2 linked regions of the Homo sapiens genome follow. The protein of the gene in region 2 interacts with the protein of the main gene of each other region in a pairwise test. Each region holds a gene or a part of one and is shown on either strand. Other genes may lie near its edges.

Region 1 (3,500 bases), on a different chromosome or scaffold from region 2:
AGCCTCCCAAGTAGCTGGGATTACAGGTATGCGCCACCACACCTGGCTAATTTTTGTATTTTTAGTAGAGATGGGGTTATACCATGTTGGCCAGGCTTCTCTTGAACTCCTGATCTCAGATGATCTGCCTGCCTTGGCCTCCCAAAGTGCTGGGATTACAGGTGTGAGCCACTGCGCCCAGCCTAACCTGAGTTAAATCTAAGAGGTGGGTATATGGTATGTCTTACATTAGTCTATGCACTTTTTTGTATGTTTATAATATTTCAGTACTAATTTTTATTTGAAAATCGATGAGATTTTTCTTTTAAAATCCCCCATATATGGGTATTCACTATATTGTTGTTTTAATTTTTCTGCATTTTAAATTTTTTAAATAAAATATTGAGGAAAAAGACCTTACACATTGCCATCACTACCCCCCTTATACACAACACACACACACACACACACACACACGCACACCCCATGGGGGAAAAAACCCATTAGGATGCGTGCGTGTGTGTGTCTGTCTGTCTGTGTCTTCAAGCCTTCAAGAACAGGCATCTTTAATTTTTTTTTGTCTCAGCTACTCAGTTCTTATGATTTCTTAAAGCAAAGGGAGTAGAGACAAAGAGAAGTGGTATGAGAATGAGAATGAGACCACAATTTCTCAAAGGTAAAACTGATAATGCGGTGGACCCAATCATTGTGTCAGAACAAGGAGTCTAGGCTTTGGATTTTCTGTATAGGGGAAGAAAGAAAAACTCACATGATAGCAGTCATATGATTGTTCACATTTTGTAGTAAGTCAGCTTTAGTATTTGTCATGCCACAAAACGTTTTTCCCTCATTCCCAGGTATTAGCTAAAACAATAACTAACTACATGCCAAGCACTGCTCTAAGCACAGTCTATGCACTAAGTCATTCAATCCCCATTAACAACTGCTATATGGTAGGTACAATTAATATTCCCATTTCACAGAGTAGAAACTGAGGCACAGGGAGGTTGAGCAACTTGCCAAGGTCTGGTAGCTGAAAAAGTAGTAGGTGTCACTCATTTGATAAATTGAGTCATTACCTTTTAATCATTACTTATCATTCACATTTGAAAATCTTCTCTTAGGCCAGGTGTGGTGGCTCACGTCTGTAATCCCAGCATTTTGGGAGGCTGAGGTGGGTGGATCACTTGAGGTCAGGAGTTTGAGACCAGCCTGGCCAACACGGTGAAACCTCGTCTCTACTAAAAATACAAAAATTAGCTGGGCATGGTGGTGCACACCTGTAGTCCCAGCTACTCAAGAAGCTGAGGTGGGAAAATCGCTTGAACGCGGGAGAAGGAGGCTGCAGTGAGCCAAGACCGCACCCCTGCACGCCAGCCTGGGCGACAGAGTGAGACTCCATCTCAAAAAAAAAAAAAAAAAGAGAGAGAGAGAGAAAGAGAAAGAAAGAAAATCTTCTCTTATAACAGCCATTTCTATAGTAACCCCAAAAAAGGAAAAAAAAGTTTATAAACATACAATTTCTGTATGTTAGAGGTTTTAACATTTCACTAGATGGCTGCTAAAGCTGGACTATAATAAATCTTTAAAAATGTTTAAATAGAATCCATTATATTCGTTGCACAAGAAAAAAACCATCTTAGCACTATTTGTAAATATTTAATTTTTAAGCAGCATTTATAAAACAAATAAGCAATTAGCAATGCCCAGTGTCATTTGAAGATTATACCTCAGGGTTGTCTACCCAAGACCAAACACTAAGTCCTTCTAATAATATTCCTAATTGTTCCCTTATCTTTTTTATTTTTATTTATTTTTTTTTTTTTGAGATAGATTCTCACTCTGTTGCCAGGCTGGAGTGCAGTGGCGCTATCTTGGCTCACTGCAACCTCCGCCTCCTGGGTTTAAGCGATTCTCCTGCCTCAGCCTCCCAAGTAGCTGGGACTACAGGCACATGCCACCAAGCCCAGCGAATTTTGGTATTTTTAGTAGACACGGGGTTTCACCATGTTAGCCAGGATGGTCTCGGGTCTCAATCTCCTGACCTCGTGATCCGCCCGCCTCGGCCTCCCAAAGTGCTGGGATTACAGGTGTGAGCCACTGCACCCGGCCACTGTTCCCCTATCTTAAGAACACTCAACACTCCTGCTGGGTCAGTCCTGAGCAATATTAACTGCACCATTTTCTCTGCCCTGCACCCAGTTCTCTCCAGCATTCATGCATCAGCTCCACTATTCCTAAATCCAGTGAGGCCTTTTAAGCCATAGTCAGCCGAAAGGACTAGAAAGTAAGGGCATGACATCAATCTTGTTAATCTGTTGCTTACTTCAATATCTTTCTCAATCATTGTTTATACCTTCTGCACTTCCTCCAACTAGTCAATAAAAAAAAAATACATTGGTTTATGTTATACTCAAAAATTGCAATATTTATCTTGGACTCAATGTCTAACCCAAAACAGTAGAAGATTAAGACCAGAAGATAAAAATATTTTATTCTTTAAATACTGTTATGTAAGTGAATGTTCTTGTTCTTAGAAAATATACACATCGAAATATTTAGGATCTGCAACTCACTGTGAAATGGTTCAAAAGTAATAATAATATGTATACAGAAATAGAGGGACTGTGGAAAATGTTAATAATGGGGGAATCTGGGTGAAGGGCGCATGAAAATTCCTTACAGTCTCCTGGCAACTTTTCTGTCAGTTTGAAAGTATTTCAAAATTTATAAAAATGAGAAAAAGACCCTACAAATTTAAACATTCTGCATCGTTTGGGGACTGGCTTCAACAGCAATTTGTATATGGTTTTTTCATGTTGAGGTTGATTCGGAGGAGGAAAGTGTTTCAACAACCAGCATTTAGATAACTTCCATAAAGCACCACAGACGACATTTGTTGTTTAATTATTAATCCCCTGATTGTCTGCAGAAGGTAATGAACCATGACATTTGTTGGTTAAATGACTGTTTTTGCTTAAATATACTGTGTCTTCTGATATACAATATAAATCTTTAAGAAGAAAGAGTGGTGATACGGGACAGGCCTATCAAATGGGAACTGAGTTGTTTACTGGATTATGAATCGTGCTCACACACAGCTGCCCACCTGGTAATAGTTGGCTTTGGCCTCGATCATCAGCTGCTGGGTGGAGATCATCTTCTTCCGGCGTTTGCACTCTTCCTTGAGCGTCTTGATCTCCCCCGCCTGCTTGGTGAGCAGCTTCTTGCTCTGCTCGCCGTCGCAGTGGCTCAGGCGCAGCCGCTCCTCCAGGGTGTGCAGCTGCGAGGTGAGGAACTCTTGTGAGTGCAGCAAGTACTCGATGGTGAACTGCGCCAGACGGATGAGCTTCAGCAGCACCGGGTCCACCCCCGACTGGCAGTGTGGGCACTTCTCGTCTTCCAGCTTGCAGAAGGTGATGTTCATGATGTTCTCCTGCAGCGTCAGCACGTCCACAGCCCCCGCCACCTTGTCCACGTCGATGGCGCTCAGCCGCCGCCAGTCCACACTCTCCAGCCGC
Region 2 (3,500 bases):
CCATAATATGGCTAGTGTGGTGGCTCACGCCTGTAATCCAAGCACTTTGGGAGGCCGAGGCAGCAGAATCACTTGAGCCTGGGAGTTTGAGACCAGCCTAGGTAACATAGCAAGACACTGTCTCTACAAAAAAAAAATTTTTTTTAATTAGCCAGGCATGTGGCACATACATCTGTGGTCCCAGCTACTCGGGAGGCTGAGAAGGGAGGACTGCTTGAGCCCAGCAGGTAGAGGCTTCAGTGAGCCATGTTCATACCACTGCTCTCCAGCTGAGGCAACAGAGTACGGTTTTGTCTCAAAAAAAAAAATTGTGTATCAAAATCTCCCATAATAGATTTGTGTATCCAAATATTTGGGAATATAGATGGAGAAGAATGTAATTCTGCCAAGGGAGGGTAGAGAAGAAAAGCCTGGCTTCACAGAGCTGATATCTGAGGTTAGCCTTAAAGCGCCAGTGGGAATTTTCTAAGGTAGATGGAACAGAATTATAAAGACAAAGAAGGTGAGATAGGATCCCTGGAGGATCTGACCTCCAGGACCCACTGGCTGCCCTGACTGTCTGGAGCTCCTGCTGCAGCAGGGACAGGCCTGGGCCTCACCTGGGCATGGAAGACAGACAGCGACTTGACAGAGTGCAGGGGGATCAGGACGCGAACCAGGAACTGCTTGTGCTCCGTCTTCAGGGGCAGCGCAAAGCCATTGATGATGCTGAGGAGGAGGCAGAAGAGAGGAAGAGGGCTCAGGTGACCTGGCCCCAGTCCCTCCTTCCAGAATCCTGAGCTCCAGCTGAGGCCCAGGGAGAATCACCTTCCTAGGATCTCCAGCAGCTCAGCCACACCATTGAAGTGCTCGAATTCATAGATGAACCTGCAAGAGAAGAACGCAGGTGGGCTCAAAGCAAGCAGGGTAGGCCCAGTGCCCCCTTAGGCATCCTGCCTGCCCACCCTCACCTGCACGGCACGCTCATCCAACTCTCCCCCAACCCAGAGGCTGCGCTCCCTTCCCAACATCCCAAACCAGGCCCCATTGAGATCCCCGCCCCCCCACACTGAAATGCCCTTCTCAGCCCAGCCACCTCTGCCACTGAGTCCCAAGCTCAAGGCTCTCTTGCCAGTCAACCAAGAGAATGACAAACACTTAGCACATCTACTCCGTACCATGTAAGTCTCAGAATTATCCAGGGAGATGGGGCTTAAGAAATCCATCACATGGATGAAGAAATCAAGACTCAGCGGTTAAATAAAACAACCCCAATGTTAATAGGCAGGGAATCTAATGAACTCCAAGGTGCAGGAGGACAGGGATCATGGCTCACCCATTTTGTAGCTAATAACAACTAATGTTTCAGAGTCCCGGCCTCAGTCCAGGAGCTATGCTGAGTGCTTTGCAGGCAAGGCCCCATGTCACCTCGATAATGGTCCCTGAGTTAGTACAAGCAGCATCCCCATTTTTATCTTATCTTTGAGATGGAATCTCGCTCTGTCGCCCAGGCAGGAGTGCAGTGGCGCAATCTTGGCTCACTGCAACCTCCACCTCCCAGGCTCAAGCGATTCTCCTGCCTCAGCCTCCTGAGTAGCTGGGATTGCAGGTGTTTACCACCACACTCAGCTAATTTTTGTATTTTTAGTAGAGACGGAGTTTCACCACGTTGGCCAGGCTGATCTTGAACTCCTGATCTCAAGTGATCTGCCCACCTCCAACTCCCAAAGTGCTGGGATTACAGGCATGAGCCACTGCACCCAGCCAGCATTCCCATTTTAAAGACGAGCAAACTAGGAGAGAGCTTAAGTAATTTGCCAAAGTTCACCCAAACGTTGGAACCAAACTCAAATGTAGGCCATACAGCTTCAGAGCCATGGTCTCAACTACAAGGCCACGTGAGCCTTGATGCCCAGTGGGTGCTGGTGCTCAGTGCATGTTTGCAGAAAGAATCTCTCTCTGGGTCCTTATGGCCTGGCATGATAAGGGTCAAATGATTTAGCTCCTAGGCCCCTGGACTGACCCAGTCCCTGCAAACCATTTCATCTCTCTTGGCCTCTACTTTCTCATCTGTAAAATGGAAATAAATACCCATTCTCTGTCAACTTCACAGGCTTTGTATAATCAATATGTAATACGTTACTGAGAAAGGGCTTGGAAAACAGAAGTTCTACAAGGGCCCCTGCAGCCCAGGAGCCTTTGCTGCAGTCTTCTTTTTTTTTGTTTTCTTTTCTTTTTTTTTTTGAGACACAGTCTCCCCGTTGCCCAGGCTGGAGTGCAGTGGCATGATCTCGGCTCACTGTAAACTCCACCTCCTGGGTTCATCCGTCTCGCTCTGTCGCCCAGGCCGGACTGCGGACTGCAGTGGCGCAGTCTCGGCTCACTGCAAGCTCCGCTTCCCGGGTTCACGCCATTCTCCTGCCTCAGCCTCCCGAGTAGCTGGGACTACAGGCGCCCGCCACCGCGCCCGGCTAATTTTTTGTATTTTTAGTAGAGACGGGGTTTCACCTGGGTTCAAGTAATTCTTGTCTCAGCGTCCCAAGTAGCTGGAATTACAGGTGCCCACCACCATGCCTGGCTAATGTTTGTATTTTTATTAGAGACGGGGTTTCACCATGTTGGCCAGGTTGGTCTCAAACTCCTCACCTTAGGTGATCCACCCACCTCGGCCTCCCAAAGTGCTGGGATTACAGGTGTGAGCCACCGCACATGGCCTTTGCCGCAGTCTTCTAACAGCCCTCTCACCCTCCCCAGGTCTCTGCTGGGCAGGCAGCAGCCACTCACCGGAGGAAGATGTGGTTGCACTGTTTGCGGATGTAGGCCCGGAGACCCAGGAACTTGCCATAGACCCGGTGCAGGATGGTCTTGAGGTACTCACGCTCCCGGGGATCCTCACTATCAAATAGCTCCAGGAGCTGTGGGAACCAGAGTCAGGGTCAGGGTCAGGGTCAGGGGAAAGGTCCACCCCAGGTTGCTTCCATCCTATCCCTGGCCCCTCAGAGAGCCTGCCCCTGCCTTGTGGTACCACCCAGCCTGGGCTCCCCACTTCACCATCAGGACAAACTTTTGATCCACATATCTCTTGGCCACGGAGGGCTGGAAGTCTGGGCTCTCCAAGAAACGCAGGAAAAACTCATATACCAGCTGGGGGAGGGGGACAGACAAAAAGGTGAGTTCAGTAACAGCCTCACCCACTCATTCCACCCTATGGCCCTCATCCAACTGTCTAGGGGCTAAGGAGGCCCTCTCCCCATGCCTTGGATCTCTTCTGAAACTTGGATCTCTGTCTTCCCCAACCCTTCAGACCTGCAGGTGTGGCCACGAAGGCTCAAGATTGGGCTCATCCTCTTCAGGGTCAAATTCAGGGTTCTCACTGGGCGGCAGAGTCCGGAAGATATTCACTGAGATCTGAGTGGCAGAGTTGGGGTTCATTAAGGAAAAGCCCTTGAAGACAGAAGCCAGGGAGTCTCTCATTCAAAGCTTTTTTTTTTTTTTTCTTTCCCAAGACAGGGTCTCGCTCT

What was found.
Region 1: the proteins of PPP2R5B (region 2) and DZIP1 interact in a two-hybrid assay, tested with the Homo sapiens proteins (one study listed by IntAct).

Annotation. Positions count from the first base shown.
Region 1 is NC_000013.11:95,638,207-95,641,706, forward strand, and holds part of DZIP1 (cilium assembly protein DZIP1), read right to left. Parts: coding exon 3,089-3,500; intron 1-3,088. UniProt on the Homo sapiens protein: Molecular adapter that recruits protein complexes required for cilium assembly and function to the cilium basal body.
Region 2 is NC_000011.10:64,927,689-64,931,188, reverse strand, and holds part of PPP2R5B (serine/threonine-protein phosphatase 2A 56 kDa regulatory subunit beta isoform), read right to left. Parts: intron 3,388-3,500; coding exon 3,286-3,387; intron 3,124-3,285; coding exon 3,031-3,123; intron 2,895-3,030; coding exon 2,764-2,894; intron 868-2,763; coding exon 808-867; intron 709-807; coding exon 600-708; intron 1-599. UniProt on the Homo sapiens protein: As the regulatory component of the serine/threonine-protein phosphatase 2A (PP2A) holoenzyme, modulates substrate specificity, subcellular localization, and responsiveness to phosphorylation.